2 separate regions of the Homo sapiens genome follow, and region 2 is reported to be linked to region 1. The links are microRNA targets in miRTarBase. Many come from high-throughput screens and were not tested one by one. Region 1 holds a microRNA gene; the other region holds the end of a gene's coding sequence.
The links. Region 1 holds the annotated microRNA hsa-miR-3117-5p (AGACACUAUACGAGUCAUAU, at 2,915-2,934, opposite strand). A microRNA usually pairs through its seed, bases 2 to 8, with sites in the 3' UTR of a target mRNA and lowers its output. Matches are read on the target gene's strand: a 7mer-m8 pairs with bases 2 to 8, a 7mer-A1 pairs with bases 2 to 7 and ends in A, and an 8mer does both.

Region 1 (4,151 bases):
GAAATTAACCAGTTTGAAAAAATTTTATTTAAAATAGAATGATAGGAAGAATCTTGGCCAACAAAAGTGCTTGTAATGAGCCAGGTGATTGGTTAGGACCAAAGGATAAAAATAATGAAAACATATTAATCTCAGAGAGAATGAAATGGGTGAGTAAATCCAGTGGGTTATCATGGTCATAGTAAGCCCAGGCTAGCAGGAGAGCACTGAGGATAGGTACCAATCCATACTCATCAAAGCCAATTCTCTTTTTGTATCTATATACTGAGTCAGTCTTTCTTTTTTTCTTTCTTTCTTTCTTTCTTTCTTTCTTTCTTTCTTTCTTTCTTTCTTTCTTTCTTCCTTTCTTCCTTCCTTCCTTTCCTTTCCCTTCCTTCCTTTCCTTTCCCTTCCTTCCTTCTTCCTCTCTTTCCTCTCTTTCTTTCTTTCTCTTTCTTTCTCTCTTTCTTTCCTTCCTTCCTTCCTCCCTCCCTCCCTCCCTTCTTTCTTTCTTTCTTTCTTTCTTTCTTTCTTTCTTTCTTTCTTTCTTTCTTTCTTTCTTTCTTTCTTTCTTTCTTTCTTTCTTTCTTTCTTTCTTTCTTTCCGGAGTTTTGCTCTTGTCACCCAGGCTGGTGTGCAATGGCAAAATCTCAGCTCACTGCAATCTCTGCCTCCCAGGCTCAAGTGATTCTCCTGGCTCAGCCTCCCAAGTAGCTGAGATTATAGGCATGCATCACCACGCCCAGCTAATTTTGTATTTTTAGTAGAGAAGCAGTTTCACCATGTTGGCCAGGCTGGTCTCAAACTCTTGACATCAGGTAATCCACCTACCTCAGCTTCCCAAAGTGCTGGAATTACAGGTGTGAGCCACGGTGCCTGGCCAATATACTGAGTATTTCTTACTAGGACTTCAACTTACTAGGACTTAATATCTCCACATATGAGTAATTCTTACTAGGACTTCAACCTCTGCTAATGGAGCTGGGAGAGAAGTGATTGCATCAACTTTTGGGTAGGATGTGTTTAGAGGCACTGATCCATGTGGAGATGCCTTTGGGAACAGCAAGAAATAGATGCGGCAAAAGCTCGGAGATTGGCCTGGCTGTGGTGTTGCTCACTGTGAATCCAGGTACAAGGTCATATCAGTAGGGGATCTTAAATGGGAGGCATTTGACCTCATGCTTATTGCAGCCGTTGGGATGGTCTTCCACAATTTTTAATCAGAGAAACTGTGATTGTACATAGCAGCACTGGAGTCCTATTCTGATCCTTTGTCTTCTCGACTGATGGAAATGTGGCTCATGTGTCCTGTGGAGTCAGTCAGCATGGTGGCTAAGGGCACCGGCTCCAGTGCCAGACTGCATGGGATCAACCAATGTCGATTTCCTAGCTGCAGAAGCTTGGGCAAGTTACTTCACCCCTTTGTTTCTCAGTTTCTTCATCTATAAAATAGCCATCATAACAGCATATATCCCATAGGGCTATTAGAGGATTCAGTGGACTAACATAAGTGAAGAACCTGAGACAGTCTCTAGAACATAGTAAATGCTCATTAAATGTTTTCTAGAATAATAATTTTTATACACTATGACCCAGGTTAGGGAGTGAAGAGATTTTAGCAGCCTCAGACACTTGGGCATGTGTTCTAATTTCACTTTCTAACCCCCTCTAATGAGGTTTTATATTGTATTTTAAAATAATTTTTTTCTTTTTCATGGCAGACTTATTGTATTTGCTGACTTCTATTTTAAAAAGAATCATCTACCATGGACTTTTGGCATCTATATTTTAAAGTTTCAGTTACCTTTTGTAACTACTGTCTTTTTTTTTTACCCTCCTATCTGTCTGGATTTTAATTCTACCCATTGATATCTTTTCTTTTGGGTGATGAAAGCACAGACACTGGATTTTAGACTAGAATATGGCCTCCAAGTCTTAGTTTGTGGGTAGCCTTCAGAAAGTTACTTATCCCCCTTTGGCACTGATATTTCTCTTTAAAATTGATGTATTACTGCTAACCTTATTTAATTACTAGGAAGACTAAAAAAGATATCAGCGCAACATATGTCCTGCACAGGGCCTTCCACTTAGCACAACCTCTCTCCCTTCCTCTATCAGCTGCTGTAATGATGACCAAATCAGGAAATTCTGGTCCTAACCCCACTGTATATCTTAGGAGGTTCAATCAGCTGAAGTTGGTGCTGGTGTGTCTACCCTAGCAGGTTGCTGAGCAACCCACAGTGAGTTGTAGCAGCCCTGAAAACAGTTTGCATCAACAAGGCTTCAATGATCACAGACAAACACAAGCATTTACTAAAGCTGAAGGGACAGCAAATTGCTAGAGTGCTTTCCCAACCCCTTTGCATTTATGATTTCTTTTCTGAGAATGATATATGATCCAATTACAGAGTTCACGAAAGCATTAGGGAGTTCATGAAAAGCAAAGGCTTATACTAAACATACTAAACAGCTTGTCCTTTGACCATCACTGATGGTGGAACCAGCTTCAGCTATTTTGCTATCACGTAAGTAATTTGGGACTCTCAAATGATAAGTTAAGGAAGGATACTTGGGATTCTTTAAACAAATGTCTCGTTAGAGTACCTCAGAGAGATATTGGGCCTCTACCCGTAGCTGTGAGGAATAACTCAGTTATTTTAATAACTTTAGAAATGATGATGGAAGAGTAGTGCTTTGGCTACATGTAAATTAGTTCAGCCTGCCCTGTAGAGGTTGTTCAACCTTTTCTCTCTCGAGAAAGCTTTTTTCCATTCCAACTTTCCTCACATGCCAGAAATCTCTGGTGCAGTCAATTACAGACATTGTCTTCATTCAGAAATGGATTTGGTTTCCATTAACGATGTTCTCCTGAGATCCATCGAATAGTGTCCCACAAAACACCTGGCACTATATGAGTCCTATAATGCCTTCCCTTATATGACTCGTATAGTGTCTGGCCCTTTAGGGAAATTCGATTCCATCTAGTGTAAATTTCTTTGTTGTTGTTGTTTACAGGTGTGGAAACTGAGGCCCAGCAAAGTAAAGGGTAATTCCCAAAGCCATGGAGTTTTGGCAATGCTGGGACTACAGCCCAGGTCTTCTGATCTAGTGAAGGCATCATCACATATTCTGGGTGGTTAATGATTAGAAAATGGCAAGGGAATATAAATCATGCTGCTATAAAGACACATGCACACGTATGTTTATTGTGGCACTATTCACAATAGCAAAGACTTGGAATCAACCCAAATGTCTAACAATGATAGACTGGATTAAGAAAATGTGGCACATATACACCATGGAATACTATGCAGCCATAAAAAATAATGAGTTCATGTCCTTTGTAGGGACGTGGATGAAGCTGGAAACCATCATTCTCAGCAAACTATCGCGAGGACAAAAAATCAAACACCACATGTTCTCACTCATAGGTGGGAATTGAACAATGAGAACACTTGAACACAGGAAGGGGAACATCACACACCGGGGCCTGTTGTGGGGTGGGGGAGGGGGGAGGGATAGCATTAGGAGATATACCTAATGTTAATGACGAGTTAATGGATGCAGCACACCAACATGGCACATGTATACATATGTAACAAACCTGCACGTTGTGCACATTGTACCCTAGAACTTAAAGTATAAGAAAGAAAATGGCAAACTTCTTAAGAAACAATGTAAATTATATAATCCTCAGAAAAATATTGCTAACTTAATTATTTAGAAAAATTTGCAGGACAACAGTAAATGTAATATTCTTGAAATAAATAGTTACAAAAGAAAATGCAAAAAGAAAATATAAGAACTTAACATTTGGCATCTAGACAAAAAATAACTTTGTTCGCCCAATCCTTTGCACTCTTTGGCTTAAAAACTTTCATGGTTTCAAGGTGGCCCACTGCCTATGGAAGTAGCCCACACACTTCAGCCTGGTACTTAAGGCCCTTCCTATCTGGTCCTGGTCTCCTTTCCAGCCTTGCCTTCCATTATCACATTTACCTGTAACCCCAAGTAGACAAACTGCCCCATTTGTCTTGTCAGTAAATGCCTAGTGGACTTTACTACCTTTCCACTTTTGCTTTTGTTGTTCCCTTTGCATGAAATACACATCCTCATCTTCTTGAAGGCCAAACTCAAGTCTCCTCCCCCACCCCGAAGCATCACTGATCATC
Region 2 (4,000 bases), not on the chromosome of region 1:
TGATAGATATTCATGATGGCACACGCCTGTAATCCCAGCACTTTGGGAGGCTGAGGTAGGCAGATCTCTTGAGGTCAGGAGTTCGAGACCAGACTGGCCAACTAGATGAAACCCCGTCTCCACTAAAAATACAAAATTAGCTGAGTGTGGTGGTGCATGCCTGTAATCCCACCTACTAGAGAGGCTGAGGCAGGAGAATTGCTAGAACCTGGGAGGTGGAGGTTACAGTGAGCTGAGATCGTGCCACTGCACTCTAGCCTGGGTGACAGAGCGAGACTTCATCTCAAAAAAAAAAAAAAAAAAAAAGATATTCAAGGTAATGTAGCTAATTATAACAGAGCCATGAATTGAACCAGATCTGCAGAGTCAGAGCAGTTAATCATTAAGCTACACTGACTCTTCAAAAGGGTGATGAAAGAGAACCCTTTGATATGAGAATAAATTCAAGGTGAGGAGAGGGTTGGAATGGATTTGTAATGAAATCTCTCTGTCTTGGTAGGTTCATCCTGACAAAAATCATCATCCCCGGGCTGAGGAGGCCTTCAAGGTTTTGCGAGCAGCTTGGGACATTGTCAGCAATGCTGAAAAGCGAAAGGAGTATGAGATGTAAGTTGGAGATGGGAAATCATCAGATAATGGTAAATGAAAAATCCTCAATAGCAGAGGCATCTGGACTTGGGGGTGGAGGCTTGTTGAGATGGAGAGAACTGAAGTCACTTGTCTTTCTCGCTAGACAGGGGCCTCAAGAGGCCAACTGATATGTCTTCCTTTGTCCCTCCCTCAATACCTTCTGACTTACAAAGCATTTCTTCTATTAGGAAACGAATGGCAGAGAATGAGCTGAGCCGGTCAGTAAATGAGTTTCTGTCCAAGCTGCAAGATGACCTCAAGGAGGCAATGAATACTATGATGTGTAGCCGATGCCAAGGAAAGCATAGGTATGAAATAGAAGGAGAGGGATGGGACAATCACAGCTCAGGGATTATGTAACCAAGGATCTTTCTAGTGAGTACTGGTAATTATGAGTTACATCTGTATCTCATAATTAGTAAAAAGACCCTTAAGTTTCTACCTTTGTCATATTGTCAATAGACTGACGATTTTAATTAGCACTAAGAAACATTAGCTTTAGGATAGAACGTTGAAGGGATATGAAATACTAAGTGGGGTAATTTTAGATGTTTCAGCCCTATTTGTGAATAATGGTAAGACTACTAGCAGTGCCCTAGGTAGGCTTGACAAATTATTAAGGAACTATCCTTTTGTTGGTTGCAGGAGGTTTGAAATGGACCGGGAACCTAAGAGTGCCAGATACTGTGCTGAGTGTAATAGGCTGCATCCTGCTGAGGAAGGAGACTTTTGGGCAGAGTCAAGCATGTTGGGCCTCAAGATCACCTACTTTGCACTGATGGATGGAAAGGTGTATGACATCACAGGTACTCTCTGTCCTCTAGAAATACAGGCTCATACTTCCTGATCTTTTATGTGCTCTAAACTGCGACGTTTTGGCTAATTATTTCTCATGTTTATAGAGTGGGCTGGATGCCAGCGTGTAGGTATCTCCCCAGATACCCACAGAGTCCCCTATCACATCTCATTTGGTTCTCGGATTCCAGGCACCAGAGGGCGGCAGAGGTAGGTGGTATTTCTGTCAATAATCTATCCACTATTTCAGTTTTGAATACGGTTTCAGATGACCTGCTTTTTAGGACACCCAGGGGCCTTGTTTTCTAGGAAGTTTGGGAACTGATAAGTATATCTAACTTAGGTAACCATATGACTCTAACATCTCTTGCCTTATTTCTTCTGTTTTACCTCAGAGCCACCCCAGATGCCCCTCCTGCTGATCTTCAGGATTTCTTGAGTCGGATCTTTCAAGTACCCCCAGGGCAGATGCCCAATGGGAACTTCTTTGCAGCTCCTCAGCCTGCCCCTGGAGCCGCTGCAGCCTCTAAGCCCAACAGCACAGTACCCAAGGGAGAAGCCAAACCTAAGCGGCGGAAGAAAGTGAGGAGGCCCTTCCAACGTTGATGCCCCTTCTCTTTCCTCAAATCAATGTCAGGGAGTCAAAAGGGCTGTAGCACAGGATGGAGTTTGATTTATCCCTCCTCCCCCAACACCTAGGAACTGAATCTTTTTCTTTTTATTTTTTGAGATGGAGTCTTGCTCTGTTGCCCAGCTGGAGTGCAGTGGTGTGATCTCAGCTTACTGCAACCTCTGTCTCCCGGGTTCAAGCAATTCTCCCATCTCAGCCTCCTGAGTAGCTGGGATTACAGGCACACACCACCACACCTGGCCCAGCTAATTCTTTTTTGTATTTTTAGTAGAGACGGGGTTTCACCATGTTGCCCAGGCTGGTCTCGAACTCCTGAGCTCAGGTGATCCACCCGTCTTGGCCTCCCAAAGTGCTGGATTACAGGCATAAGCCACTGTGCCCGGCCTGAATCTTGTCTTTTGACAATACCAAAGAAATAGGGGGTAGCTAGAGTAAAGAACCTAGGGCCTGGACCTGGGCTGGACAGTGTATCCCTTTAGGTGTGGGAACTGGGTATTTCCCTGGGGTCTGTATGCCTTTGTCTTGTCATTTGCTTTTAGGGCAGATGACACTTTTTCCCACCCTTTTAAAGCTACAAGTCTATCTTCTTTCTTGACCCATTTCAGGAGGGAGCCCTCTCCTTTATCCTGATATAATATTTAAAAGAGAACAAGAAAGCATGTAGCCCTAATGATAGGAGATTATCGCATAGAGTTCAGAGACTGGAAACTGAATTTTCCCTCGACTTTCACTTTGTGGGTAAATCACCCAATTTTAGGCTCTTTTCTGCAAGGATGGCCAAAATTAATCATTTTTAAAAAGTAGATTCATGCCCACTGCCCTTGGGTGAGGGGGAAGAATACGGGGGTTCCCAGAAGCCCCCATGTGATCCAAGGGTTTGTATTTTTTTTTTAAGTTTGTTCATATTTGTATGTACATGACTATTTAAAGCCAGGGGATTATCTTTCTATAAATGTATAACTGGCAACCTGTATCTTCCCTCTTTGTTGCCCATATAGCCGGAGCCCTTTTTCTCATTTGAGAATCTCTTCCCTACTAAGTGTTAAGCTTAGAGTGAAGGGCACCTCCTACTGGACCAAAGGAGAGGGGATTGGAGAATTGTTTTAAGTTTTATACATTAGGTCAGTATTCCATCTTCCCACCCCCAGCCTTATGAGGACAGCTCTCTACCCATCCTGATTAAACTGCAGCTATAGCTGAAAAAAATTATTGTAAGAAAAATACACAGCAAAACAGAGCTGGAAGGTGGTAAGTGTAAAAGATATGGAAAGATGTAATCACCAAAGAAGCTGCCCAAATGGCTTCCTGCTATGGAGGAGAGTGATTTGGCCCTTACCTCACCTGCCTTCCTGATTCAAAGAAACTTGCCACTAGCAGGACTGGGCCCAGGAGCCCCATTTGCCAATCTCTTCTCTTCTTGGGAGTCTGGGAAAGGTTGTATAGTTCTCAGGCTTTAAAGGTGTAGAAGACAGTATGGAGAATAAGAGAAGGATGTTTTATAGTCCTCTGTTTCAGTGCCTTCCCCATGCCCATGGAGCTGTCCCAAAACCCATCCCTCAGTATTTGTTGATGCCAAAGACACGAACCCCATGGAACTGGGGCAACTTCGGCAGCAGTACACTTAGCAATGAGGCTGTGTTGATGAGGAAGTGCGCAGCATCATACTTGGTATAGAAGCTGGCCAGGAGATAGCTGGGGAGAGAAAAAAATAGGGTGAGTGAGGTTGACCTTCTCTATCCATATTCTTTTTTTTTTTTAAGAGACAGTTCTCACCATGTTTCCCAGGTTGGAGTGCAGTGGCTATTCATAAGTGTGATACGTGCAGTACAACCTCAAACTCCTGGGCTCAAACAATCCTTCTGCCATAGCCTCCCAAGTAGCTGGGACTCCAGGCATGCACCACAGTGCCCTGCTCTTTCTCTTCTATTTTAAATGACCAGTTTT

Region 2: miRTarBase lists ORMDL2 as a target of hsa-miR-3117-5p. Seed matches in the 3' UTR shown: 7mer-A1 at 2,602-2,608.

Annotation. Positions count from the first base shown.
Region 1 is chr1:66,627,235-66,631,385 of GRCh38, reverse strand. It overlaps MIR3117 (microRNA 3117), which reads right to left and starts at 2,946; the gene lies at 2,869-2,946. All of the region lies in intron 2 of SGIP1 (SH3GL interacting endocytic adaptor 1), which reads right to left.
Region 2 is chr12:55,820,008-55,824,007 of GRCh38, reverse strand. ORMDL2 (ORMDL sphingolipid biosynthesis regulator 2) reads right to left here. Exons shown (of 4, transcript NM_014182.5): 4 at 2,129-3,748. The coding sequence ends at 3,613. It overlaps DNAJC14 (DnaJ heat shock protein family (Hsp40) member C14), which reads left to right. Exons shown (of 7, transcript NM_032364.6): 3 at 500-606; 4 at 819-938; 5 at 1,276-1,436; 6 at 1,533-1,635; 7 at 1,821-3,023. The coding sequence ends at 2,031. Among named protein-coding and RNA genes, the nearest start is that of ORMDL2, 4.0 kb to the right of the region's middle.